Linked DNA regions of Homo sapiens: regions 2, 3 and 4 are each linked to region 1. The links come from fine-mapping of genetic effects on gene expression. A gene starts in region 1. Each other region holds a variant in brackets. All regions are shown on one strand. Distances are from middle to middle. Region 1 holds the start of KIF21B (kinesin family member 21B). Region 2 overlaps CAMSAP2 (calmodulin regulated spectrin associated protein family member 2). Region 3 overlaps KIF21B (kinesin family member 21B). Region 4 overlaps DDX59-AS1 (DDX59 antisense RNA 1).

What was found.
Region 2: its variant is fine-mapped to the expression of KIF21B in whole blood (Lepik 2017, PIP 0.95).
Region 3: its variant is fine-mapped to the expression of KIF21B in whole blood (INTERVAL, PIP above 0.99).
Region 4: its variant is fine-mapped to the expression of KIF21B in blood mononuclear cells (TOPMed, PIP above 0.99).

The regions. Positions count from the first base shown.
Region 1 is chr1:201,021,794-201,029,935 of GRCh38, reverse strand. It overlaps KIF21B (kinesin family member 21B), which reads left to right and starts at 6,222. Exons shown (of 35, transcript NM_001252102.2): 1 at 6,222-6,593. The coding sequence starts at 6,553. It overlaps LOC101929305 (a long non-coding RNA gene), which reads right to left and starts at 5,987. Exons shown (of 4, transcript NR_188464.1): 1 at 5,851-5,987; 2 at 4,317-4,432. RefSeq lists enhancers at 1,081-1,375, 7,420-8,027 and silencers at 5,497-5,654, 6,006-6,365, 6,766-6,815.
Region 2 is chr1:200,783,762-200,791,961 of GRCh38, reverse strand. All of the region lies in intron 2 of CAMSAP2 (calmodulin regulated spectrin associated protein family member 2), which reads right to left. Among named protein-coding and RNA genes, the nearest start is that of CAMSAP2, 49 kb to the right of the region's middle. The variant T/C (reference allele first, on the strand shown) is at 4,430.
Region 3 is chr1:200,997,253-201,002,252 of GRCh38, reverse strand. It overlaps KIF21B (kinesin family member 21B), which reads left to right. Exons shown (of 35, transcript NM_001252102.2): 9 at 1-92; 10 at 1,473-1,536; 11 at 1,645-1,863; 12 at 2,289-2,370; 13 at 2,787-2,904; 14 at 3,678-3,869. Among named protein-coding and RNA genes, the nearest start is that of KIF21B, 24 kb to the left of the region's middle. RefSeq lists an enhancer at 1,651-2,151. The variant A/C (reference allele first, on the strand shown) is at 2,768.
Region 4 is chr1:200,684,534-200,692,733 of GRCh38, reverse strand. It overlaps DDX59-AS1 (DDX59 antisense RNA 1), which reads right to left. Exons shown (of 3, transcript NR_110787.1): 2 at 2,304-2,425. Among named protein-coding and RNA genes, the nearest start is that of DDX59, 19 kb to the right of the region's middle. The variant G/C (reference allele first, on the strand shown) is at 3,604.

The DNA of each region.
Region 1 (8,142 bases):
TGGTCTGGCTTCTTTCACTGAGCATAATTAATTTGGGGATTCATCCATATTGTATCATGTATCAATAGTTCATTCCTTTTTATTGCTAAATAGTATCCCACCATATGATACACCACAGATTCTTAATCCATTCCCCTGTCGATGGACATTTGTTGTGTTTCCAGTTTGGGCCTATGACAAAGCTGCTGGGGTCTTTCATGGGCAAGTCTTTATGTAGACACGTGAAGCACATAATTCCTTAGGGAGCTGTGCTCACTTTCTTGGCAGCTCAGCAGCTGCCAAGACAAGATTCATCCTTTTCCGTCCCTGTAATTCAGCAGAGGACGAAACTGGCAGGCAGCATGCTTGAGTTTGAACCCTGCCCACCACTTGCAGTGTGACCTTGTGCCCCTCTTGGTGTCCTGGTTTTCTTTATGTTCCTACCTCCATGGGTTGTGTGAGCATTCCATGACTGTATGGATCTGAAGCATTTAGTGCAACGCCCAGCACAATGTTCAGAAATAGTAGCTGTTCTTATTTTGCAGGCACCTCTGAGAAGATCTATACAATCCGAAATGGGCTTCCTCTAGAATCTCCGAGCAGTTACCCTAACCCTTTGAAGTGGCTCCATTTCACAGAGGAGTTACTGAGTCCCAAAGCAAAGAGTGACTTGACAGGGTCGATCTTTGATTTGGGAGTGAATGCAGGCGTGTCCTGATACCCAACTATTTCCTAGTTGGGTGATGGGCAGAGAGGAAGTCGGAATTTTCCAATTACTTCTCAGAGTGTCTCCTAGAGAGTCCTGATAAGTAGCTCAGCACAGCCAACCAGAAGACTATGAGCCCCTAAGGGTTCATACAAAACCACACTCATTTATTCAGTCCCCCCGGCTCAGCAACCTGGAAACCCCGCAAAATCACAGTCAAATCGGGGGGAAAGAGATAAGGGTAGGGAGGCTGCCTACCCTCCTCCCCTGCCCCACAGGGCTCTAAGTAGCCCAAAAAGGGGCTCCTGTGTGTCTTAGGCAAGCAGGTCAGTCTCTGGAAGGTACTTACGCCATCTGGCATCTTTACAGACCAGGCCTCCGAACTCTGGCTCTGCCTCTTCCTAACTGTGTCAGGGTAGGCCAGGCTTGCCGTGGCAACACACAACTTGTAAGTTCAGTGGTTTAACAATAAAAGTTTATTTCTCATTTACACTCTATGAACAACATAGGTGTGAGGGTGCCAGAGTCTTAATGCTTCCACTAGAGCTGACGCACATCAGTTCCGCCACGTTTTATTGGTTAAAGTTGGTCACATGTCCACAGCTAGCATCAAAGAGTGAGAACATGCAGTCCTACCTTGTGCCAGAAGGCAGAGAGCCGGAAATATTTGGAGACAGCACTAATGACTATACACTAGCCAAGTGACCTTTGAGCTCATTTCCTCTTCTGCAAAATGGGGACGAGAACAGTATTTGCCTCATAGATTGTTGTGAGGATTAAAAGAGAAATGTTATGTAACACCCTTGGCACAGTGTGGCACATGGGTGAGGTTGAGGCCCGGGGTATTTGTGTACAATGAGGACCCAGCATGCCCAGCCTCCCTCCTCCCCTGTAAACACTGACCCTGAACCCCGAGGCCCGTCACTGAGTGGTTAGCAGAGGATGGATAATTTTCTGCAAATCTGTCTTCTCCCGCCCTCTGGATCTGACACTGACCACTTGTGCCATGCAAACTTCATTGCCATAAACTACGCCCCCACCCCCAGCCTCATTCACACTCATGTGAGACTTCTTATCCCTCACGTGACTGCTTTATGACAAATCTGCCCTTCTGTCCAGTTAGAGGATAAGAATCCATTGAAGAAGGGGTAGAGAATCCGAGGGAAATGGGAAGGAAATTAACATCTATTTTTTGCTGAGCACTGTGCTGGATGCTTGACCCACGTTACCTCATTTAAACCTCATAATAGTCCTGTAATGAAGTGAGTGTGATTATTCTCATTTTGAGATGTGGGAGCTGATGCTTGGAGTAGTTACACACAGGCCCAGGGTTACAAAGCTAGTCAGTTGCAGAGCTGGGATGTGAACCCAAAACTCGGTGACTCAGAAGACCACACTTCAGCTTCTGGGCTGTCTTTTGCTATTTCATTCAGAATTTTTTTTTTTTTTTTTTTTTTTTTGAGACAGAGTCTTGCTTTGTCCCCCAGGTTGAAGTGCAGTAGTGCGATCTCGGCTCACTGAAATCTCCACCTCCCGGGTTCAACCGATTCTCGTGCCTCAGCCTCCTGAGTAGCTGGGATTACAGGCATGTGCCGTCACATCTGGCTAATTTTTGTACTTTTTAGTAGAGATGAGGTTTTGCCATGTTGGCCAGGTTGGTCTCAAACTCCTGGCCTCAAGTGATTCACCTGCCTTAGCCTCCCAAAGTGCTGGGATTACAGGCGTGAGCCTCCACACCTGGCTTAGACCTGACTTTTATCCAGGCTATAAACTCACCAACTGCCCAACCACAGATGTTTAGCCTTTGGGTTCTATTGTGCTGCTGTGGAAACTGTCCTGCTTCTGGAGTACAGGGACTAGGCTTTTAGTCACTGCTCAGTCCCTACCTTACTATGCAACTTTGGACAAGTCCTTTTACCTCTCTGGGCCTGAGTTTCTTCACTGAAAATGAAAGGGCTGGACTAAATTTCTCAGGTTCTTTCCATATCTAGGATTTGGTAACATTGAGAATTGCCCACATCTCTTCCTGCCTTTGGCCCTAATACTGTATTAGAAAGCATCACAAAGTAGAAAGGCAGATAAAGATCCCACATTTGAAGTTATACAGAGCATTAATTAGACTCTCGTTATTATTTGAAACTAAAAATAGTTTGTTTTAAGATTGATGGCGTGTTTGTAATCCATAGCAGGTTTCTCCCTTCCTTGCTATTTATAACAACTCTGGTTTCCTCTGTAACTAAGTCTGTCTCCTCCTATAAAAGAGGAAGTCAGGCTAAGTCTGCTCCTGAGCTAAGATCTCCTGAGTCTGCACCCCAGGAGAGGCTCTCTGGAGCTCTGAGCTCCTGTTGCTGGGCAGAACTCGGCTTAGTCTCCAGGTGGGCATTGGAAGATATGGCTGGACTATATGCCAGCAGGATGGGCTATGCCTGCTCTCCCATGGAACCATGCATAGCTGCTGGGGTGTGGCTGGGTATTAGGACTGGAGGTCCAGAACGCTGTATCTTCCACTCCTACAAGTTTTGCTTAATGCTTAGAGTTTTTTTGCAAATGCCAATGCCCAGTGCTAACCTGAAGAAGATAAAAGGAAACAGGGCTCAAGTTCAGGCCACTTTTGGGAGACATTTCCAGGGCCTATAAGTATCTCTTAGGTTTTTGATTTGTTCCTATAGGGTTGTTGTTGAGAGCTGGGTGTCCTGGAAGATCTGGGCATCCCAGATGGCTGCCCCAAGTTGCTGCCGGATTATTTTAACTACAGTAGCGTGGGAGCTTCCTGCCTCAGAGAGGGCTCCCCACACCTCCCCCAGGTTCCCATCTGCCCAGACGCCCACAGCTCCTGTCAAGAGAAATGATGGAAGCCCCAAGATACCTGGGGGAAGGGCCTCAGCTCAGGACAAGAGCTGGGGCTCCAACCCCAGTCCAGTCAGAGAACTCTCAGGGCCAGCTCATGGTTGTATGCATGTGTGTGTGTTTGCCTGTTTCTGTGAGACAGTGAGGAAAGCATGGGGGTGGGGGAGATAGGCACACGGGCAGCTAATCCTGAGAAACTCTGGGGTTTGGGAAGGAGGGAAGGAAAGGAAAGCTGGAAGGGGATAGAGGTGATGGGAGAGAGGGGGATGGGTAAAAACCAAAGAGAGGAAGCAGTGGCTGTGCTGAAGCTGGACAGAAACTGAAAAGGGCAAGGCTTGTCCTAAACTTCCTCTGACCCATCTAACCTAAATCTCCCCACGCTGTGGTTTAAGCCTTTTTCCCACCTTGGTTCTCCATCTAGCCTCTGAGCAGCAGAACCCAGGGGGGATGTCTGGATGCTGGCTGCCCTGCTGCTCCCTGGTGGCCCAGGAGGGAGCTACTTCTGAGTAGCCGAAGTCCTGAGGCTCTGACATTTAGGAGACCTGAGTTTCCCGCCCGTGTGTATCCCTGCTTCCCCTGACTCAACACCCAGTGACCTGGAGGGATGCAGAGAGGGTGGGCAGCAGCTCTGGAGGCATTTCCCAGCAGTAGAACTGTGAGTCAGAAGGGTCATCTACTGTCGGAAGTCAGAGGGGACCTCCTGCAGGCAGGAAACCAGAGTTGGGCCCCAGAGAAGTCCAGAGATGAGTTGGCGGGAAAGTAGCTCTTCAGAATGCAACATTACCATCCGGGAAGGCTGAACCTGGAGTCCGCTGTGCCTAGAGGAAAAGCCTGGGCCGGCCTAGCTCCCTTCTGCCTGGACATCATCATCCCTTCCACCTTGGTGGTCATCTGGGAAGCCTGGAATAAGATATACATGTCCAAATCTGGAGTCTGTTGCTTATATGCTGGAATTCATACATGTGAGGCTCAGTTTCCCCATCTGCAAAATTTAAAAAGAATAAAAAAGCCTAGCTTACAAGGTTATAGGGAAAAAATGAGAATATGTGCATAAAATACCTTGTGTAGGTGGTCCATATGTGTTAGTCTCCTCCCCACGAATTATTTTGGTTGGAAGATGGGGAGGAATGTTGCAGGATATGACTGCAACATTCTGCTAACCTCCTGGTCCAGGAGAGGTGATCCCCTGGCCCCAGGGAGAGCTTCCTCTAGATTCAAATGCTAATAAAAGGTCCAGGATACCACCAAGACCTCTTCTCCAGCCCCCATCATGGGGGCACTGCTGGCGGTGCTCCTCCTGTTTGCCATGGGGATGAAAAGGATGTGTTGATTGGCCCTTGAAATTTGCCCTTGAAATTATCTTTGGTTTTGATTTGACCTTAATAGGTCAAGCCAAACAGGGATCTGAGCTACTGCATGAAGCAGTTATTGGCGGGGAGGGGGGTGTGAGTGGAGGAGGGAAGGGGAGGAAGATGGTACCAACAGATGCATCCTCAGACCCCAGTCCACACCCTTGCCAAAATCTCTGACATGGTTTCATCATCTGAGGGTAATGTAAGAGGCCTGGAGTCAGACTCCCCTTCCTCCCCTCCCCCAGAGATCCCCATCCACATCTGGGGCTGCAGCTGGGTCCTCCTCTTGGGCCCTTTCCAGGGGAGGGAGCTGGGTGAAGTGAGGGCAGCTGGTGAGGGGCCCTGTGAATGGCCCCAATGTTGGGAGGCAGGGGGCAGGGAAGAGGCGTCTGGGCTCAGAGGGAGGGAGATGGACTGGGAAGGGAATTGTGACTTTGCAGCACTGGTCTCCTCCTCCATCCAGGCCCAGCGTTAAAGTCTCCATGGTCCTCCTTGTCCTTTATACCCATTCCTGCAGGCAGCTGCCCTCCTTCCCTTCCCCACCCACTTCACCGCCCAGCCTCTCTACCCAGGTGCTCGGAACTGAGGGCCCCCTTTGTTCCCTCCTTTCCCCCAGGGCAGCTCAGGCCTCCCACACTGACCCTCTGGCCCCACAGCCACAACAAGCAGAGTGTGAGCCAGGCCCAGTGGGGTCATCTGTGGGTCATAAAGGTCAATGGGACAGTCGTCTAGCAGTAGGGAGGGGCTAGTCTTGGGCTAGGAGCCTGGCCAGGAATCAACTAAAACATGAGCTTTAAGATGCTGCAGGGTGGAGGTGGGGGAAATTTTAGTTAGGGGCTAGCAAGAACTCCCTTCGAGAAGGGTTGGCGAATTTACTGGAATAAATGCAGAAGGGAAGCTTTCCTGGCTCTTTTGAACTATAAACCGTCAATCGCTGTGGGATCCCCGGGAGACCAGGGTTCTTACCATGCTTACCCACGAACTCGCTCTGTAACCTTCGGTAGTTCCCCTCTTTGAATCTCAGTTTCTTCATTTATGAAATGAGGGTCCCATTGAAGCCGAGGTTCTGCTACTCCAGGAGCCGAGGTTCTAACGTGGTCTGCGTCCAGCGCCCCCACCCCTACTCCCACCCCTACCCCCACCCCCACCCTTCAATCCCGCCCCCTACCCCCAGCCACCCCGTGGCCGCGAGCCAAGAGGTCCCTTTAAAGGCGCGAGTCCCGCCCCCACTGCTCATTAGGGCTTTCGATTGGCGGCTCCTGGGCGGGGCGGGGCCCGGCCTGGGCTCGGGGCTGGCTCGGGGCGGGCTCGGGGCCGGATCGGCCCCCGCCCCCTTTGTTCGCGCTGCGGCGGGAGGTGGCTGCCGGGTGGGAGGTGTGTGCGCGTGTGCCGCGCCGTAGGGAGCGGCGGGTCGCGCCGCCGGCTGTCAGCTAGCTCCGCGCCGCCGCCCGATGGCGCGAGGAGGCGCGCGGGCCCAGCCCCGGGGGGCCGGCCGCGGGTGAGCCCCTCGGCCTGCCGCCCGCGAGCATGTCACCTCCAGCCGCCGCCGCCGCAGCCTCCGCCAGCCGCGCCCGCGCCCCCGCCTCCCGCAGCCGCAGCCGCTGCCTCGGGCATTGGCCCCCAGACCCCCGCCTCTGATCCACGCCCAGACCCTAGCTCCAGAGGGCCATGGCCGGCCAGGGGGACTGCTGCGTCAAGGTGGCCGTCAGGTAGGGACCCGGGGCGGGGAAGGGGGCGCGCGGAGAAGCCTCGGGCTTTGTCTCGCGTGGGCTTTGGGCGGGGGGCGCGAGCACCGCTTGGGCTGGAGCCTGCACTCCCGGAGGAGGGGCCGGCGTGGGACGGGATGGAGGGCGCCGCGCGCTGGCCAGTCTGCCGCAGGGGAGCGGCGACCCCGCCGACTACTGGAAGGTGGCTTTGTTTGGGTGGTAATTTTGGGCCCCTCTTGGGAGCCCTTAATGATCAGAAAATCGAATAAACAAGGAAATCCGGTATTTCACACCCAGCTCTGGCCCAGGCCGGAGCGTCTGTGCGTTTCCTCTTCGCCTCCCCACGAGGCTGCTGTCTCATACGGGGATACCAGAGAGGGAAATTTCCCCTCATCCATGCGAGTCAGCTAGTTATGTGCTCTTGGTCCAGCTAGCAAAGGCAGCACACCCACCCTGGGAGCCAGATCTGCAGACAAAGATCGGGTGCGGGGACCAACGGAAAAGCTGGGATGATGCCTTGGCCTTCTGTGGGAAGTCAATGGCTTTGGGGGAGAATCCTACCAGTCCTGTCCCAAGAGGAGATGGGCCTAGGAAGGGAGGAAGAGGTGTATCTGAGGTGCTTCTCTCTGAGAGGGCAGGAGGGTGTGATGCAGATGCCCCATCCTCAGGCACTCAGATAAAATTGAGCAGGGGAGGGTTGCCTAGACTTATCTGGGGTTCCATTCTCAACAGCTCCGGGACTTGAGCCGGCAGAAATGAGACAGGGAGAGGACATGGCTGGGTGGGTTCTATTGGGAGGGGTACACAAAGGTGCAGGAGCAGGAAATGCTGTGAAATTGAGCCATCTGTGTTCTTTGTGCTGGGTGGAGATGCTTCACACCTCACCACTTCTCCCAGTTTTTGCTTTGGGTTTTTCTCTTTGAGAGGGGTGTCTTGGCGGCAGAGTGCCAATCTGGAGCTGCTCACCAAGGTAGGGATGTGGCAAGAACATCTATCTCTGCCCCAGCCCTGTATGATGGAGGGGGCGGGGGATTGTCCAGGTCTAGGGTAGGTCTCTCAGGTCTCTAGATCCCTTGGGTCATATGTGACCCAGATTCCAGGGGTCCTAGGAGGTTGCTCCTAGACAGAGTCAGAGATGGCAATGAAAAAGCTTTCTTCTTCCTGCCCCAGGGCAGATGCCCCTTGCCACGGCCACCTGGCCAGGCCTCTGCAGCCCAAAGAGGAGCTGACACTGATCAGTGCTTGGGTGAAGGGAAGGAGATTGAGGCACCCCCACCCATGCACCCTAGGCAGCACTCAAGAATCACTTGAGCACAGCTTTCCTGGCCCTGAGCAGCCAGAGACAAAGAGGAGCCCTGCAGGTGCCTGGTGGGCTGACTGGGGCGGGGCCAGGCTGCTGCTGGGGCTGACATTGCAGCAGGATCTTGTGGAGGTCGAGGGAGGGGTGCATGGCTGGGGGGTGGGAGTGAGAAATGTAAATATGGCATCTGCAGCAGATTGGGAGAGTCCGAGAACACCATAAAAGGGAAATGAAGCTCTGGCCCCCACCCAT
Region 2 (8,200 bases), 240 kb after region 1:
CAGGGTCTTGCTTTGTCACTCAGGGTGGAGTGCAGTGGCGTGTTCTTGGCTCACTGCAACCTCTGCCTCCTGGGTTCAAGCGATTCTTCTGCCTCAGCCTCCTGAGTAACTGAGATTACAGGCGCGTGCCACCACATCCAGCTAATTTTTGTATTTTTAGTGGAGACAGGGCTTCACCATATTGGCCTTACTATTTATTTAATTTTTAACATATCTAACTAGCTCGCACAAAAAGTAAATCTCTAAGAGGGTCTTAAAGGAAAAGAATAACAATCACAGGTGCTAACTGCAACAGAATACATCTTTGAAAGGGACCACAGGAATAAGACTGTAAATATAACAGATTTTCCTGTTCTCAACTTCCAGTGATATTTCAAGCTATCCAACTAAAGCATAAAAAGAAAAAAGGCCTTAAAAAAATGAACAAAGCCTCAGAGCCTCATCGGTGACCTGTGTGTGGGACAATAGCAAGCAGTTATACAAATGGAGTCTAAAAAACATGGTGGGGGATAATATTCAGAGAAATAATGGCTGAAATTTTTCCAATTTTGATGAAAACTATAAACTCAAGGATATGAGTAGCTTTAAAAATCCCCAACGGGGTAAATACAAAGAAAAATCCATTAAGGCACACCATAACCAAATTCCGAAAAAAAAAGAAAGAAATCTTAAAAGCAGCTGAAGAAAATCAAATTACACATTACATACAGAGGAAATCTGATAAGAATAACATCTGACTTCTCTCAGAAACAATGCAAGCCATAAGACACAGAATGCATCTTACTCAGCAAAAATAACCTACAAAAATGGAGGTAAAGGCCGGATGCAGTGGCTCACGCCTGTAATCCCAGAACTTTGGGAGGCCGAGGCAGGTGGATCACCTGAGGTCAGGGATTCGAGACCAGCCTGACCAACATGGTGAAACCCCATCCCTACTAAAAATACAAAAATTAGCCAGGCATGGTGGCATGTGCCTGTAATCCCAGCTATTTGGGAGGCTGAGGCTGGAGAATCACTTGAACCTGAGAGGCGGAGGTTACAGTGAGCCAAGATGGCACCATTGCACTCCAGCCTGGGCAACAAGAGCAAAACTCCGTCTCAAAAAAAAAAGGAGGTAAAATAAAGATAACTTTTCTCAATGTTTATTGATCTAAAGATGTCACTAGCAAATGTGCACTACAAAAAAATGTAAAAGAAAGAAGACTTTAGTTTCTGGTCTGCATGTAAAAACCTTAGCAGTCACTCTGTTCTAACAACAAGCACAAAGCTGAACAGAATGAAGTATCAACAATTCTAGGTAGATCTGAAAGAAAGGTGAGAACACAAGGCAAACCACCAGCCCAAAGGATGGAGAGACAGACAGGCAAAGGGAAGTCACAGATTACCAGAGCAAAGACTCACAAACAGAAACAGCCAAGGGAACCAGTGCTGGAGAAGGAAAACTAAACTGTAACTGATGAATTGTTGCAGGTTCAGAGTAAACAAGTCTGAGAGTTAAAACTCCAAGGGATCAAGTTATAGGGAGCTTTACCTTCAAGAGCTCAACCAGGCTCTGGCTTGAACAGGTTCTCACAATAAATATCAGAAACTGTCCCCAACCCTTCCCCCCAGCCCCGCTGCCCCCATGGTTCCAGTGGGAGGGGAGAGAGAATTTCTAAATATACTAGAGCACTCCATTCTTCTTAACAAGGCCTGCCCTCAGAAGAAACTAGGTTAAACCAGAGCTTAATCTGTTAAGGTACTATCAAAGCCTAACTGACCTGGGAGAGGGAAACATTCAAATCCTGTCCCCTCTAGCCTTCCTGACCCACCTAAAGAAGGAGAAAAAAACCTGAGAAACATTTATGAAGTCCACAGTCCAGAGGCATAGGCTCACTAAAAGCCTGAGACCTAATTATAGGACTATAGAATGCTTCTCCTCTCCCCCACACCTTACCACCATATTATAGCAAGGTTGCAGGATACAAGGTTAACATACAAAAGCCAAACACATTCCTATATACCAACAATGAACAAGTGGTATTTGAAATTAAAAACAAAATACCATTTTCATTAGCACCCCCAAATTATAAATACTAAGTATAAATCTAAAAAAATGCATAAGATCTATGTGAGGAAAGCTATAAAACTGATTAACAAAATCAAAGAACTAAATAAATGGAGAGTCCATGTTCATGGATAAAAAGACTCAGTATCATCAAGATACCGGTTTTTCCCAACTTGATCTACAGATTCAATGCAATCCCAGTAAAAATTCCAGCAAGTTATTTTGTAGATATTGATGAATTGATCTAAAGTTTACATGGAGAGGCAAAAGACCTAGAATAGCAAATAATATTGAAGGAGAAGAATAAAGTTAGAGAACTGATGCTACCCACCTTCAAAGCTCACTACAGAGATTCAGTAATCAACACAATGTGGTACTGGCAAAAGAACAAATAGATCACCGGAACAGAATATAGAGCACACGAACAAAGTCAACTGATCTCTGACAAAGAAGCAAATAAGGCAATGCAGTGGAGAAAGACAGTCTTTTTAACAAATGGTGCTAGAACAACCAGACATCCACATGAAAAAAAAAAGACTCTAGACAGACTTTACAGCCTTCATAAAAATTAACTCAAAATGAATCACAGACCTAAATGTACAACAAAACTATAAAACTTCTAGAAGATAACAGAAGAAAAACTAGATAATATTGGGCTTGGCAATGACTTCTTAGATACAAAACCAAATGCACAATCCATGAAAAAATAATTGATAAGCTGGACTTTATTAAAATAAAAAATTTTGCACTGCGGAAGGGTGTCAAGAGAATGAAAAACATAAGCCACAGACTGGGAGAAAACAATTGCAAAAGACATCTCTGATAAAGGACTGTTATCCAAAATATACAAAAAACTCTTAAAACTCAGAAAACAACCCAATTAAAAAACAGGCCAACAACCTTAACAAACACCTCACCAAAGAAGATATAAAGATGGCAAGTAAGCATATGAAAAGATGTTCTGGCCGGGCACAGTAGCTCATGACTGTATTTCCAGCACTTTGGGAGGCTGAGGTGGGCGGATCACCCGAGGTCAGGATTTCGAGACCAGCCTGGCCAGCATAGTGAAACTCCGTCTCTACTAAAAAAAAAAAAAAATACAAAAGTCAGCCAGGCATGGTGGCAGGCACCTGTAATCCCAGCTACTTGGGTAGCTGAGGCAGGAGAATTGCTTGAACCCAGGAGGCGGAGGTTGCAATGAGCCGAGATTGTGCCATTGCACTTCCAGTCTGGGCAACAGGGTGAGACTCCGTCTCAAAAAAAAAAAAAAAGAAAAAAAGAAAAGATGTTCTAAGTCATATATTATCAGGGAAATGCAAATTAAAACCTATTAGAACGTCTAAATCCACAACACTGACAACACCAAATACTGGACTGGAAAGTTCCTGTGGAACAACAGGAACTTTCATTCACTGCTAGTGGGAATCCAAAATGATACAGCCACTTTGGAAGAGAGTTTGGTGATTTCTTACAAAACTAAACATATTATTACTCTATGATCCAGCAATCACACTCCATGGTATATACCTATAGGAGCTGAAAACTTATGTCCACATAAAAACCTAAACACAGATGATTATGTAAGCTTTATTCATAATTGCCAAAACTTGGAAGCAACCAAGACATTCTTCAGTTGATATATGAATTTTTAAAACTGTAGCACATTCAGACAACAAAATATTACTCAGTGCTAAAAAGATGTGAGCAATCAAGTTATAAAAATACATGGGAGGAAATTTAAGTGCACATTATTAAATAAAAAGTCAATGTGAAAAGGCTACATTCTTTATGATTCCAACTACAGGCACTCCTTGGATATATTGCAGGTTCCATTCCATTCCATTGCAATAAAGCAAGTAGCATAATAAACCGGGTCACACAATTTTTTAATATCCCCAGGCATATAAAAGTTATGCTTATACTGTAATCTATTGAGTGCAATATCATTATGTCTAAAAAACCAATGTACCTAACTTAATTTAAAAATATTGTATTGCTAAAAAATGCTAACAATCACCCAAGCCTTCAATGAAACACAGTATTTTTGATGGTGGAGGGTCTTGGTTCCATGTTGTTCGATCAGAGTGGTGATTGCTGAAGGAGGGGATGGCTGTGGCAATTTCTTGAGACAACAAAACTTGCGTGCTGATTGGCTCTTCTTTCACCAAAAATTTCTCTATAATATGTGATGCCATTTGATAGCATTTTACCCACAGTAGAACTTCTTTCAAACGTGGAGTCAGTCCTATCAAACTCTGCCGCTGCTTCACCAACTAACTTGATATATAATACTGTAAATCCATTGTTTGTTGTCATTTCAACAATGTTCACAGCATCCCCACCAGGAATAGATCCATCACAAGAAACCACTTTGCTCATCTG[T/C]AAGAAGCAACTCCTCATCCAGACAATTTTGATAATGAGATTACAGCAATTCAGTCCTATCTCCGGGCTTCACTTCTAATTATAGTTCTCTTCCTATTTCTACCACATCTGCAGATACTTCTGCCACTGAAGTACTGAACCCCTTAAAGTCATCCCTAAAAGTTGGAAATCAACTTCTTCCCAACTCCTGTTCATGTTGATATTTTGATCTCCTCCCACGAATCATGAATGGCATCTAGATTGGTAAATCCTTTTCAGAAGGTTTTAAATTTACTTTGCCCAGATCCAACAGAGGAATCACTATCTATAGCAGATATATACTTAGAAAATGTTATTTCTTAAATAAAAAGACTTGAAATTCAATATTACTCCCTGATCCATGGGCCACAGAACAGAAGCTGTGTTAGCAGGCATGAAAACATTCATGCCCTTGTCCCTCTCCATCACAGCTCTTGGGTGACCACGCGCATTGTCAACGAGCAGTGATATTTTGAAAGGAATCTTTTTTTTTTTTTTCTGAGCAGGTCTCAATAAGGGCTTAAAATATCCAGTAAACCATGCTATAAATAGATGTGCTGTCATCCAGGCTTTGTTTTTCTACTTATAGAGCACAGGCATAGTCAATTTAGCATAGTTCTTAAGTGCCCTAGGATTTTCAGAATGGTAAATGAGCACTGGCTTCGATCTAAAGTCACCAGCTACATTAGCCCACATAGCCCATAACAAAACAGTCAACCTGTCCTTTGAAGCACTGAAGCCAGTCACTGACTTCTCCTCTCTAGCTATGCAAGTCCTATATGGCATCCTCTTCTAAAGGAAGGCTATTTCATCTACATCGAAAATCTTGCTTAGGCTGGGTGCAGTGGCTCATGCCTGTAATCCCAGCACTTTAAAAGGCTGAGGTTGGTGGATCACCTGAGGTCGAGTTCCAGACCAGCCTGGCCAACATGGCAAAACCTCGTCTCTACTAAAAATACAAACATTAGCTGGGCATGGTGGTGGGCGCCTATAATTCCAGCTACTCAGGAGGCTGAGGATGGAGAAACGCTTGAACCCGGGAGGCGGAGGCTGCAGCGAGCTGAGATTGCGCCACTGCACTCCAGCCTGGGCGACAGAGCAAGACTCCATCTCAAAGAAAAAAAAAAAAAAGAAAGCAATTTATGGCTTTAAGTGCTTGTATCAGAAAAGAAGAAAGCTTTAAAATTAATGACCTAAGAGTACATCTTAAGAAGCTAGATTTTTTTAAAAAGCCAAAATAAGAAAAAGAAAAGAAATAATAAAGAACAGAAATCAATGAAACAGAAAACAAGCAAAAATTAGTTTAAAAAACTGAAACAAAGAGCTGGTTTTTAGAAAAGATTAACAGAATTGATAAACCTCCATATATATTAATAACACCAGGAAAGTAAAAAGGGATATCACCACAGGTTCTATAGATATTAAAAAGATAATAAGGGAGTATTATAACCAACTTAATGACAATAAATTGACATATTTAGATGAAATGGACAAATGTCTTAAAAGATATAAAATAACCAAAATTGGCTGGGTGCCGTGGCTCACGCCTGTAATCCCAGCACTTTGGGAGGCCAAGGCAGGTGGATCATTTGAGATCAGGAGTTTGAGACCAGCCTGACCAACATGGATGAAGCCCCTTCTCTACTAAAAATACAAAAAATTAGCCAGGAGTAGTGGCACATGCCTTTAATCTCAGCTACTTGGGAAGCTGAGGCACAAGAATCACTTGAACCTGGGAGGCAGAGGTTGCAGTGAGCCAAGATCACGCCACTGCACTCCAGCCTGGACAACGGAGCAAGACTCTGTCTCAAAAAAAAGAAAATATCAGCCAGGCACATGGCTCACGCCTATAATCCCAGCACTTTGGGAGGCCAAGGCAGATGGACTGCTTGAGGTCACGAGTTCGAGACCGGCCTGGCAAACATGGCGAAACCCTGTCTCTACTAAAAATACAAAAATTACCCAGGTGTGGTGGGGGGACACCTGTAATCCCAGCTACTTCGGAGGCTGAGATAGGAGAATCGCTTGAACCTGGGAGGCAGAGGTTGCAGTGAGCCAAGATCAGGCCACTGCACTCCAGCCTGGGCACAGAGTGAGACTCCACCTCAAAAAAAAAAAAAACAAAAGAAAAAAAAAGAAAACATCAAGCCCCGGTGGCATACCTAGTGAATTCTGCCCCACATTTAAGGAAGAAATTACAGAAATCCTAAGTGAAGTCTTTCAGAAAACAGTGGAGTAGGGAACACTTTGCAACTCATTATATAAAAACAGTATTACCCTGATGCTAACACAAGACAAAGAAATGAGAAGAAAAATATCTCTCACGAACATGGCTGTAAACACCCTTGAGAAAATATTAACAAATTAAACCTAACAATATATAAAAGAGATAATTTACCGTGACCAACTGAGTTTAACTCCAGGAATTCAAGACCAGTTTAATATTTGAAATCAACGTAACTCACCTATTAACAGGATAAATGAGAACAGCCATATGATTATCTTAATAGAGGCAGAAAAAGCATTTGAAAAATACAGCAGTTATTCATGATTTTAAAAACATAAACATACATATATTTCTTAGCAAACGTGGAACAGAAAGGCACTCCCTTAACCCGAAAAAGAACATCTTCAAAAATCCTACAGATAATATCACATTTAACAATGGGAACTCAACAGATTCCTGATAAGATGAGGAATAAGACAAAAATGTCTGGTCTCACCACTTTTACTCAACATTAACTGTTAGTGTTTGGCAGTGCAATAAGAAGCGGGGAGCAGACCACATACATAGTGGAAAGGAAGAAGTAAAACTGTGTTTATTCACAGACAACATGATTGTTTACGTTGAAAGTTCTGACAAATCCACAAAAACATACTAGGAATAAATGTATATAGCAAGGTCACAGGATAAAAAAAATGTTCAAAATTCAATTGTATTTCTATATATTAGCAATAAATAATTTAAGAATTAAATCTGAAATGCAATTCCAAATCAAAAATATGAAAGATTCAACAAAGTGCATATGAATCTCATATGCTAAAAACTATAAAACACTACTGAAATAAATTAAAGAATACTTAAATGAGAAGAGAAACCATGTTTTCACTGGAAGACACAAATTGTTAAACTATTAATTCTTCCCAAAATGGTCTATAGATTCAACACAATTCCAATCTAAATCCTAGCAAGCTTTTTTTTTAATAGAAATTGACAAGTTGATTCTAAAATTTATATGGAAATGCAAAGAACCTAGAATAACGAAAACAATTTTGATAAAAAACAACAAAGCCGGATGGCTTACACTAACAAGTTTCAAGACTTATTATGAAGCTACATTAGTCAAGACTGTGTGGCACAGCCTAACAGACATCTAAATCAATGGAAGAGACACAGGTGTCGACGTCAGTCAATGAGGAGACAACAGTCTTCAATAAATACTACTGGAACAACTAGATAATCTTGTTAAAAAAAAAGGGTAAAATGAACCTCGACCACACTATACAAAAAAACTGATCCAAAATGAATCATAGTTCTAAATGAAAAAGCTAAAACTGTAAACTTCGAGAAGAAAACATAGGGGAAAAAAATCTTTACAACCATAATATAGGCAAGAAAAGATTTCTTAGGACATAAAAGCACTAACTAAAAAAGAAAAAAATTGTAAACTGGTCTTCATCAAAATTTAAAATTCCTTGAAAGACACCACGAAGAAAATGAAACGCAGGCTGGGCATGGTGGTCATTCCTGTA
Region 3 (5,000 bases), 26 kb after region 1:
GGTGAAAGCCATGCAGGAGGCCATCGATGCCATCAACAACCGCGTCACCCAGCTCATGAGCCAGGAGGCCAACCTGCTGCTAGCCAAGGCCGGTGAGTTGGGCTGTGCCAGGCCAGGTCAGAGCACCAACGGGCTAGGACTCCCTCCCCCGACATCCACCCCAGAGTATCAGGTGGACTAAGCCAGCCAGTCAATTCATAGTTCAACTCATTTATGCATTTTTTTTCACTTGATTTTAAAACATTTTTGTATGGCACAAGTAATACATGAACACATCCTTCTTGTTCAACATGCAAACAATACATCACTATATGAAGTGAAAGATTAAAATCGCCTCTCCCTGAACCCTCCACCCCAAGCCCTCTCTACTTCTCAGAAGGAACCTCTATGAGCAGCTTGGTGTGTATTTTCCCACACCTTTCTCAGTATTTGTTTCAAGTATGAATATGTATTCATATACATTCTTAAATGTGTGTATGATATAGACTACTTTTTCTATGTATGAGATTATATATATTGCTCTAAGACTTCCCTTTTTCATTTAGCATTATGTTTTATAAATCTTTCCATATTAAACCTACTTCTGGTTCACGCCTGTAATCCCAGCACTTTGGGAGGCCACGGCAGGAGAATCACTTGAACCCAGGAGTTTGAGACCAGCCTGGGCAACATAGGGACGCCTAGTCTCTACAAAAAATACAAAAATTAGCCAGATGTGGTGGCACATGCCTGTAGTTCATGTTACTTGGGAGGCTGAGATGGAAGGATTGCCTGAGCCCGGGAGGCTGAGGCTGCAGTCAGCTGTGACTCTAGCCTGGGCGACAGAGCAAGACCTTGGCTCTAACCAAAAAATAAAAATTTAAAAAAACCTACTTCTCTTCATCTTCTGCCATGGTGTCCCATATGTGACAATGATGAATAAATTTATTATAGTAGCCTTCTAGTGATGGGCATTTAGGTTGTTTCCAGTTTCTTGCTATTGCCAACAGTGCTTGTATACCTCTGTGCAAAGTATTTTTTCTATAGATTTCTTTTTGGAAAAGGCCCATATGAGCTGCCCTATTAGAGGCACAGATATAAGAGCAGTAGTATCAGTGGTGTTGAAGACCCTTGCTGCTATTTATCTTTTTTTTTTTTTTTTTTCTGAGACGGAGTTTCGCTCTTGTTGCCCAGGCTGGAGTGCAATGGTGTGATCTTGGCTCACCGCAACCTCCACCTCCCAGGTTCAAGCGATTCTCCTGCCTCAGCGTCCCGAGTAGCTGGGATTAGAGGCATGCGCCACCACGCCCGGCTAATTTTGTATTTTTAGTAGAGACGGGGTTTCTCCATGTTGGTCAGGCTAGTCTCGAACTCCCAGCCTCAGGTGATCCGCCCGCCTTGGCCTCCCAAAGTGCTGGAATTATAGGTCTGAGCCACCGCGCTGGCCTATTTATCTTCTTTATCGCACCCTTCTTCCCGCCGTCCCACTCCAGGCGATGGCAATGAGGCCATTGGTGCGCTGATCCAGAACTACATCCGGGAGATCGAGGAGCTACGGTGAGTGAGTGAGCTCCGGCAGGTGTGCGCGGGCTGGGGGCCTCGGCCAGGTGACGCCAAGGGCTGTGGCAGCTCACTCGGCCCCGTCCACTCGTTCTTCCTGTGCAGGACTAAGCTTCTAGAGAGTGAAGCCATGAACGAGTCCCTGCGCCGCAGCCTCTCACGGGCCTCGGCTAGGAGCCCCTACTCCCTGGGTGCTTCTCCAGCCGCCCCGGCCTTCGGGGGCAGCCCTGCCAGCTCCATGGAGGATGCCTCGGAGGTGATCCGCAGGGCCAAGCAGGACCTGGAGCGGCTAAAGAAGAAGGAGGTCAGGCAGCGGAGGAAGAGGTGAGTGGAGTGTCGTCCCCGCCCCTGAGAGCCCTCAGACCGCCCCAGTGGACCCTGCCCGTCCCCAAGGAGGACTGCTGCCCACCAGTGTTTAGGAGGGAACCTCCACGCCCCCAGCCCCAGGGGCTGCCTCAGTATTGCTTGGGAATTCATGGCGCAGATTTGCTCAGCCTTTTGGGCAACCTCCCTCCCCCACGTTCTCCTATGCCATCTGCTTTCCCCCAAGGAGAGGAAGGACTGAGCTGAGCCAAGGTCAGCTCTGGGTGGCCCTAGGGAAGAGCAGTGGGGTTCTCTGCAGAGTAGGAGCCAGTGCTCTCCCCGGCCTCTGGTGAGAGCCTTCCTTTTCTGCCGCTGCCGCCGTCCTGCCCATGTGCTCAGGGCAGGGGCAGCCTTCCTAATCCAGCTTCCCTGTCCTCCCTGAGCAGCCCCGAGAAGGAAGCCTTCAAAAAGAGGGCAAAACTCCAACAGGAGAACAGCGAGGAGACGGATGAGAACGAGGCGGAGGAGGTGAGGAGCACGGGCCGCCCCACCTCACCACATGCATGCCTTGTGTCCCTGCTGGGGTTGGCGGGGGCCCCATCCGCATCCTTGTATGGAGTGAAGGAGGCGGTTGGGTCTGCATCCAGTTGATCCTTGTACTTCCTTATATCTCTGACTGGTTACCATGGTGATCTCCATCCCCTAGGACCCCACCTCATCCCAAACGGATGATGCAGGTGGGGAGGCCCTCCTAGAGGGGTTCTGCGGTGGTGTTGGGGGAGGCGGCACTCTTCCAGGAGTAGGGGGTGGGCAGGGGGGCTCAGCTGTGGCCTGCCCCAATCCCCACCCTCCTGACACACCTGAGGCATTGTGTCGGGATGCACCTCTGCTTCTGGGCTCCCCTCTCTGAGGCCAGGCCCACCCC[A/C]ATGGTGCCTGGTGCCCAGGAGGAGGAAGAGCGAGACGAGAGTGGCTGTGAGGAGGAGGAAGGGCGCGAGGATGAAGATGAGGACTCGGGCAGTGAAGAGAGCCTGGTGGACTCAGACTCAGACCCCGAGGAGAAGGGTGCGTGGGCCTGAGCTGTGGGCTGTGGGGGATGCAATGCCTGGCTGCCAGTGCCCAAGTGTGGGGTCGGGCCCTGCTCAAAGATAATGGTGTCCAGGCCCCAGCACTCCCAGACGTGAAACCAATGACAACAGGCAGTCATGATGAGAATGATGGCAAACACTTCCTGGTCGTTCATTAGGTGCCAGGCACTGTGCTTACCTTAACCCTTTGAGCGGCTAGGTTCTTTCAGTCTTCACTGCAACTGTATGCATAGGGGTGGTGAGCTTCCCTATATCACCACAGAGGAACAAGCTCACAGGGGTTTAGTGACCTTCCCCAGTGTGGTCCATGCAGAGCAAACATGAATGTAGGCCTGACTGGTGCCAAAGCCCTCTCCTCTAAATGGAGATGCCTGCCCCTTCAGCCCTGCCTGCTGCCAGCCCTGGCCCTAGCCCTGTAAGTTGCTCTCAGCCATCTCACCCTCCTCCACTGAAGCTGGTCCCATGTCATCTGGAACAGGTGGATGCTGGCCTCGAATGGCTGGGAAGGACGTGTAGATCCCCCCTGCCAGCTCCTGAGCCCTACCTTGCCTTTCTGGAACTGCTCTTTAAATGTGTTCCTCCTTCTGGCCGCATTCTACCTGCATTAGGATTTATCATTTTGCCCAGTCTCTGGTCACTGATTGGTCATGGCTGACCAAAGGAGGGTCCCAGCTCCCCAGCACTGGCACATCTGCTCCCCAATTTGCCCCTCGCCCTAACGCTGGGCTGAGCCTGATTGTGCCCCCATAGAGGTGAACTTCCAGGCGGACCTGGCCGACCTGACTTGTGAGATCGAAATCAAGCAGAAGCTGATCGACGAGCTGGAGAACAGCCAGCGGCGGTTGCAGACGCTCAAGCACCAGTATGAGGAAAAGCTGATTCTGCTGCAGAACAAGATCCGAGACACACAGCTGGAGCGCGACCGTGTGCTGCAGAACCTCAGTGAGGCCACCGCCATGCCCCTCCACCCCATCCGGACCCTCCCTTTTCCCTGAGCCCCTCCTCTGTCAAAAGCAGCTGGTGTGTTGGGGTTATCCTGGCCTTCTAGGCAAGGGACTTCCCAACCTTTGACTGTGGTCCTTTGACCCACAGTTAAAGGTTCTTACGTCTAACCCTAGTTCCTATGAAACATTGTAAATTGATTTTTTTTCTTTGCTATCACGTCATGTATTAGAATTCTTTATATACCTAGGCACGCGAACATGACACTCCCAGCCTTTCCTCCTGCACTCAGTTCCTTGGGTCTTTTCCTTTGGACCTGTTTGTAACCGTTCTTACATTCTATCTTCATTATGCTGCTCTTCAGCCCATTCATTCCATTTTTTATTCATTCATTGATTTACTTATTCAGCAAACACATGTTGAATATGTCTTACAGAGCAGACATTGTTCTAGTGCTAGAGATATTGGAGTGGACAGAATCCCTGCTCTCGTGCAGCATACATTCTAGTGGGGAAAGACAAACATAAACGAAAGAGCAGAAACTATAGTGTGTCAAATGGTGATAAGTATAGCCAGGAAGGGGAACAGGAACTACTGAAGAGTGAGTTGGAGTTTTGTTTTGTTTTGTTTTGAGACAAAACAAATCAAAAATCTCTCTCTGTTGTCCAGGCTGGAGTGCAGTGGCGTGATCTCGGCTAACTGCAACCTCTGACCCCCGGTTCAATCGATTCTCCTGCCTCAGCCTCCTGAGTAGCTGGGACTACAAGCGCCCGCCACCACGCCCGGCTAATTTTTGTATTTTTAGTAGAGACAGGGTTTCACTATATTGGCCAGGCTGGTCTTGAACTCCTGACCTTGTGATCCGCCTTCCTTGGCCTCCCAAAGTGCTGGGATTACAGGCATGAGCCACCGTGCCTGGCCGAATTGGAGTTTTTTAAAGGATGGTCGTGAAGACTTCACTGAGCAAAGACTTGAAGGAGTTGATAGTGCTAGAGCAGCACCAACCAGGGGAAGAGCGTCCCAGACAGAGGGAACAGGAGATGCCAAGGCCATAAGGGTGCCATGTGCCTGGCATTTTGGCAGAACGATAAGGGGACCAGGATGGTTAGAGCACAGTGAGAGGGGACAGGT
Region 4 (8,200 bases), 340 kb after region 1:
ATGGGTAACTGATATCACTGGAAACAAAACTGTGAATGAAGAGAGACTGCTTTGATTCCTGAGTTTTCTCTGTCTTCATCTTATCTTCCCTTTTCTAGGGACTTTTTTTTTTTTTAATCATCATCTTCATGCTTCAGGTCCTTCACTAACATCTGCCCTTGGAAAATGGGCTCATAAACTCAGTAAAGTTTGTGATTGACAGATTTAATGTGCTGACTCCTAGGAGTGTTCATTTCAGGACAAAAAGGTTTAACTAAAAGGTACACTTCTATTATTGTAGGATTTACGCCAACAAAAGTCAGTAAGAAAGGAGTTTTTGATATTGTTTTTGTCTTTAGTAGGGAAGAGCTTCTTGTTAGCTCTTGAATTTTTATTTTTTTTTTTTTTACCATCAGTTCCTTTAAATGAGGAAGCAAATAAGGATCACATACTACATTTAGTTAGTATGTTTCTTTTAAACTATGGGTTCCTCCCCTGTTTCTGTCACTCTCACTTTTCTTTCCTTGAAATGTATTTGTCGTTTTTCCCGTAAAGTTTCCCACAGTCTGAATTTTGCTAATTGCATCCCACTGATGTCGTTTAAAAGATTCCTCTATCTGTTATATTTTCTGTAAATGAATACATCTAGAGGTTCAATTCAATTGAGGTTCAATTTTTTGGTGAGATACTTTGTAAGTGGTTTGTGTACTTTCATTAGAGACACACAATACATGGTTGTCTCTTTGTGTGAGGCTGATTGATCAGTGGATTCAGGCTTTGCCAGGCTGAATCATATGCTATAAAGTTCTCCGTCAGCTTTTCCCCTAATGCTTTTAGCAATCATTGGTGATCTTTGCTTGCATCCATTATTTCATTAGAGATTGCAGCACTGTGATATTCTAATTCTATTATGCCTGCTCTACTCATTAGCTAGAATATCCCCATAAAGGAAAACTTTCTTTCATCCACTAATGGTTACCCTGAGGTACAGTTTATACAGAAAGGTCAGACAATCGTTTGATTCTTTCTTTTTACTTACACATTTTAAAATTGTAAGTTGATTCCCTAGCATCCTCCAAAAGTAACCCATGAAAATTTTAGGTTTTTTTCTTTTTTTGGTCATTATGAAATCTATCTACATGTAAGATGAACATAAGTAAGGCTAGGTAAAATTATTATTTATTATTTTTCAATTTCTACATATGAAAGGAAATCAATTCCACAGCCTACTATATGACACATTTATGCTACTATGATTATTTTAAAAAGCAATTAAACAGTAAACTAAATACTGTTTTTTTTTTAGTGACAAGGTGAAAAATTAAAATTAAGAAAATATACAAATTGATACTTGCCTATTTATAGAAAGCAAATTAGGTTAAGATGTATCAGCCATATTCATAGCAAAATTTTAATTGACTCCAAAAATGTAACATCTTCACATTTCTCAAAATCTAATTCAAATCAGAAAATATTTGCAATGCTTTTTTGAAATGTTGTTTTGGGAATAATTAAAATGGCACAGTTATTTAAAACTGTGACCTTCCAGAAAAACAGGCTATCCAGGTTTACAGTGCAATCTTTTGCATGACTTAACCTTATAAAAAGTATGGAAACTCTAAGTGTAGGGATAAGAATGTTTAAGAGGGAGAATATTGGGGCCAGGAGCTCCCTTTGGTTCTATTCTTTTCCAAAAAAATCTGCAAATGGCACCTGCTAATGCTTTCTCTAGTGTGAGGGCCATCAATTACCCTAAGCTGGAAAATAAATTTCTATCATTTTGTTGGTAGCTTGCTAGATTATTAAATCTTGTAAGTAATTCAAATATTTTTGTATCAGGTACTGCCAAGGTGCTGGTGATACAAAGGTAAAAAAGTCAGAGTGTTTACCTTCAGGGATTTTACAGTAGAGTGAGTAAGGCGGCCCAGGAAACAGGCAGGAAACCCTAGTGAAAAGCTCTGATATAGCCCCAGTGTGAAATTTTTCTTCCAAAATAATTATTACATTATAACACTGAGTGAAAGCCTAATCTTGCATTTGCTTATAAGGACAAACACACACCCCCAGTGCACTCTCCTCCCACCCCCATCACTGTCCTTTTGCTTAAATATAATCTCCAAGGGATGCAAGCACAACTACATCCTTGGCTCTTATAAACTTGGGACATTGCTGGGCGCGGTGGCTCACGCCTGTAATCCCAGCACCTTGGGAGGCCGAGGCGGGTGGATCACCTGAGGTCAGATGTTCAAGACCAGCCTGGTCAATGTGGTGAAACCCTGTCTCTAATAAAAACACAAAAATTAGCTGGGCGTGGTGGTGCATACCTGTAATCCCAGCTACTTGGGAGGCTGAGGCAGGAGAATTGCTTGTACCTGGGAGGTCGAGGTTGCAGTGAGCTGAGATTGTGCCACTGCACTCCAGCCTGGGTGACAGAGTGAGATTCCGTCTAAAAAAAAAAAGTAAATAAAAATAATAATAATAAACTTGGGCCATTACCGTACATACCTAACACTTCTGACAGTAGGTTTCAGCCCAGCTATGGGTCTGCCTGCCTCACCAAAGAAAGAAGAGCCTTCAGTTCTCCACCTTATTATTCAGGGGTAGGTCATAATCCATCAATTAATACTGAAAGGATTTAAACATATACATCTGCGGTCATGTTTTTTTGTTTGTTTGTTTGTTTGTTTGTTTTGAGACGGAGTCTCGCTCTGTTGCCCAGGCTGGAGTGCAGTGGCGCGATCTCGGGTCACCGCAAGCTCCACCTCCCAGGTTCACACCATTCTCCTGCCTCAGCCTCCCGAGTAGCTGGGACTACAGGCGCCCGCCACCGCGCCTGGCTAATTTTTTTTAAATTTTAGTAGAGACGGGGTTTCACCATGTTAGCCAGGATGGTCTCAATCTCCAGACCTTGTGATCCTCCCGCCTCGGCCTCCCAAAGTGCTGGGATTACAGGCGTGAGCCACCGCGCCAGGCCTCGGTCATGGTTTTCAAACATTTTTACTCCAGATCCTGTGTTTAAATGAAATCACCCCTCGGTATAAAACTGAAAGCTGCTACCCTCATTCCTGATTTCCGAGCATCTCTGCAGAATTCCTGCTGTTTTTCAGAAAGCTGACTTCAAGAATAAACATTAAAACAAAACGAAAAACCTTTAACTTGAATATTTCTTGCAAATGCTTATGTTCATCGTTTCTTTTTTTTTTTTTTTTTTTTGAGACGAAGTCTCACTCAGCTTCCCAGGCTAGAGTATGCAGTGATGCGATCTTGGCTCACTGCAACCTCCGCCTCCCAGGTTCAAGCGATTCTCTTGCCTCAGCCTCCTGAGTAGCTGGGATTACAGGTGCACACCACCACACCCAGCTAATTTTTGTATTTTTAGTAGAGATGGGGCTTCACCACGTTGGCCAGGATGGTCTCGATTTCTTGACCTCGTGATCTGCCCGCCTCAGCCTCCCAAAGTGCTGGGATTACAGGTGTGCACCACTGCGCCTGGCCTATGTTCATCCTTTCTAAGGACACATAGTCTTCTTACTTCATGTGATAATAATGATAATATTTTATATTTTATAAAGCTCTTAACTTTTGGCTGGGATCAGTGGCTCATGCCTGTAATCCCAGCACTTT[G/C]GGAGGCCGAGGTGGGTAGATCACTTGAGGTCAGGAGTTCAAGACCAGCCTGACCAACATGGTGAAATCCTGTCTCTACAAAAAAAAAACAACAAAAAAAAAAACAAAAAAAACCACCAGAAAAATTAGCCAAGTGTGGTGGCATGCACCTATAGTCCCAGCTACTTGGGAGGCTGAGATAGAGAATCGCTTGAACATGGGAGGTGGAGGTTGCAGTGAGCTGAGATTATGCCACTACACTCCAGCCTGGGCAACAGAGCGAGACTCTATCTCACACACACAAAAAAAGCTCTTAACTTTTTCAAGTACTTTTCCATCAGTTATTTCAGATTTTGTGGGCTATGTCTCCCACAATTTAATGTAGCCATTTTAAATTTCATGGTGTATATCTAAGAGGAAAATTTGATATTATAACATGTTTATGGATTTTTCCCACTGTTTGAGTAGTATTGCCTTTCAACTAAGTAGACCTCTTTTAAGCAACCATGATCGCTCATACTTAAGTCCAGTTATCATCTGACACTGAATAATCCACCTACCTGCAATAATCGATTAATCAACACATCAAAATATGCTATAATAAACAGAAAATCCCTAATTTCGACAATGCTTTCATATAATTTGTAGGCTATATTTTAACAAGTCATTTTAATTCTCACAGCACATTATTACACTGTTAAATTGAAATTTAATTTTTTTGCAAGCTGCATTCATTGTTGTTAATATTTATAACTGTTAAGGGATTATAACCAAATGATATCTGGTCCTGGGATAAGGAAAGAGCAAGAATGCAATCTGTTAAATTGGATTAAAGTATTAAGCTCAATTTCTGAAAGCACACTGAATGTATTCCCATAAAAATTAAGATTTTGAAGTGCAGAAGTTTCTTATGATGCAGCAAACAATGAGAAGTCAAAGATGAAAAGGCATTCAGCCTGAAATGAATCCTGCATAAAATGAAGAAAATAGAAACACTCACAGGTTTCATTATTTTAAGGGAAAAAAAACCTTCTATTTTACAGTAGAGAACAATAAGATGTGGGAAATGGAATGGGAGAATGGAGCAGTTTTCTTCTAGGGACATGTATTTAAGAATGGTTTTGGCCGGGCCTGGTGGCTCAAACCTGTAATCCCAACACTTTGGGAGGCCAAGGCAGGCGGATCACCTGAGCTCAGGAGTTTGAGACAAGCCCGGGCAAATGGCAGAAATTAGCCGGGCGTGATGGTGGGTGCCTGTTGTCCCAGCTACTCAGGAGGCTGAGACAGAATTGCTGGAGCCTGGCAGGTGGAGGTTGCAGTGAGCCAAAATCACGCCACTGCACTCCAGCCTGGGTGACAGAGAGAGACCTTGTCTCAAAAAAAAAAAAATGCTCTCAAACCCCTGAAACGCTCTACTAAATTCTGTTGCCTTGTTGAGATAATCCACTAAAACCAATAACTGTTCCTTTTTTCTTACAAGTAAAAACACTTTCTTATTTATTTATTTATTTATTTATTTATTTATTTTGAGACAGAGTCTCACTCTGTCACCCAGGCTGGAGTGCAATGGCGCAATCTAAGCTCACTGCAACCTACGCCTCCCAGGTTCAAGTGATTCTCCCACCTCAACCTCCCAAGTAGCTGGGACTACAGGCATGCACCACCACACCTGGTTAATTTTTGTATTTTTAGTAGAGACAGGGTTTCACTATGTTGACCAGGCTAGTCTCAAACTCCTGACCTTGTGATCTGCCTGCTTCGGCTTCCCAAAGTGCTGGGATTACAGGTATGAGCCACTGCGCCCAGCGATACTTTTTTATTGTAGGAGATATTTATGAAGAAGAAGAAAAAGAAATTACCATAAGCCCACCATCAGAGATAACTACTATTAACACTTTTAACAGCTTTACTGAGATTCACATCCCATAAAATTCACCCATTGAAAGTGCACAACTCAATTTTTTAAGTGTATTTAGAGTTGTACCATCATCAGCACCTAGTTTTAGAATAATTCATCACCCCAAAAAGAAACCTATTAGCATCACTCCTCATTTCCCTAACACACATTTCCCCCTACTCAGTCCTAAGCAACTACTAATCTATTTTTTGTCTCTAGAGATTTGCCTATTCCGGATATTTCATATAAATAGGATCACAGTATGTGGCCTTTTGCAACTGATTTATTTCACTTGGCATAATGTTTTCAAGATTCCTCCATGTTGTAGCAGGTATCTGTACTTAATTTTTTTAAATTGCCGAATAGCATTCCATTGTATGTACATAACATAATTTGTTTATCCATTTATTATGGATATTGGGTTGTTTCCACTTTCTGACTGTCATGAATAATGCTGCTATAAATATTCATGTACAAGTTTTTGTTTGAATACTTGTGTTTAATTCTCTTAGAATCTAGGAGACTGAAATTTCTGGGTCATATGGTATCCCTACGTTTAATATTTTGAGGAACTGCTAAATTATTCTCCAAAATGGCTGTACCACTTTACAGTCCCATCATCAATGTATAAAGGTTCCAATTTCTCCACATCCTGACAACCCTTTATATTGTCTGCCAACTATATATATATTGCTATCCTAGTAAGTGTGAAGTGCTATCTCATTGTGGTTTTGATTTGCATTTCTCTAATTACCAATGATGTTAAGCATCTTTTCATGTATTGGTTATCTGCATATTTTCTATGGAAAAGGGTCTATTCAGATCCTCTGTCCTTTTAAAAATTTGTTTTTTTTTTAAAGTATTAAGACTTCATTATAAATTCTGGTTACAAGTCTCTTATCAGATATATATTAATTACAAATCATTTATTCCATTCTATGAATTGTCTTTTATTTTCATGATAGTATCACTTGCAGCACAAAAGTTTTTAACTTGATGAAGTCTACTTTATCTATTTTTTTCTTTTGTCTCTTACGCTTTTGGTGCTGTATCTTAGAAGGTTTTGTCTGACTCAAGGTCATGAAAATTGTGCCTGTATTTTCTTCTACAGATTTTCTAACTTTAGCTCTGACATTAGAGATTAGAGTCTGATCCATTTGATTTAATTTTTGGTAAGTGTGAGGCTGGGGTTAAACTTAATTCTTTTTTTTTTTTTTTGAGACGGAGTTTTGCTCTTGTTGCCCAGGCTGGAGTGCAATGGCGTGATCTGGGCTCACAGCAACCTCCGCCTGCTGGGTTCAAGCGATTCTCCTGCCTCAGCCTCCTGAGTAGCTGGGATTACAGGCATGCGCCCCCACGCCTGGCTAATTTTGTACTTTTAATAGAGATGGGGTTTCTCCATGTTGGTCAGGCTGGTCTCAAACTCCCGACCTCAGGTGATGTGCCCACTTCGGCCTCCTAAAGTGCTGGGATTACAGGCGTGAGCCACCATGCCCAGCAAACTTAATTCTTTTATACATGGATATCCAGTCATCCCAGCAACATTTATTGAAAAGATTATTCTTTACCCTCATTGAATTGGCTAGACGCCCTTGTTAAAAATCAATTGACCATAAGTGAAAGGGTTTACTTCTGGACTTTCAATTCTATTTTTCTGACCTATATGTCTATGCTTGTGCAACTATTAATATTTGCTATGAATTCATCTTTTTTCATATAAATTTTTTCACATTTATTTTTTCAAAACCATTGAGTCATACCAAGCATGCAGTTTTTAACTTTTTTTCTCTTAATAGGCCATTAATATCCTCTGTCATTAAATATTCAACCTAATTTTTTTTTTGTTGAGACAGAGTCTTGCTCTATTGCCCAGGCTGGAGTGCAGTGGCACGATCTCAGCTCACTGCAAGCTCTGCCTCCCGGGTTCACACCATTCTCCTGCCTTAGCCTCCTGAGTAGCTGGGATTACAGACACCAGCCACCACGCCCGGCTAACTTCTTGTAGTTTTAGTAGAGACGGGGTTTCACCATGTTAGCCAGGATGGTCTCAATCTCCTGACCTCATGATCCGCCTGCTTTGGCCTCCCAAAGTGCTGGGATTACAGGCGTGAGCCACCGTGCCCGGCCTATTCAACCTAATTTTTAACGGTTGCATTATATTCCATTGTACAGATGCATAAAAATTAGTTAAACTAATCTCTTACTCAATACTTAAGAGATTGTTTTCAGAATAACATTATCTTTAACATAATAAACATCCCCAAAATATAGCTCTATTTGTATCAGTAATTACACCATAAGAAAAAAAACCTAGAAAGAAAAATTGCTAAGTACAAATATTTTTAAGCACTTGATTAAAAAATACTGCTATTGTATTAATTGACTAGCAATGTACAGGAGCGTGAGTTTCTTTATATGCTTACTAAAGCTGGATATTATCATTTAAAAATCTTGACAAATTTTGAATTCACATTTTATCAATGATTTGTAAGAAGGATATCTCAAACTTAGAAGTTTTTGATAGATTAAGTCAAATACCCAACTTTCCCCATATTTTAAAGATCTCAAATTATGTATATACATGTATACATACGTGTGTGTGTACACACACACACACACACACACACATTTTAGTTTCTTGTAGAGATGAGGTTTCACTATGTTGCCCAGGCTGATCTTGAACTCCTAGGCTCAAGGGATCCTCCTGCATCAGCCTCCCAA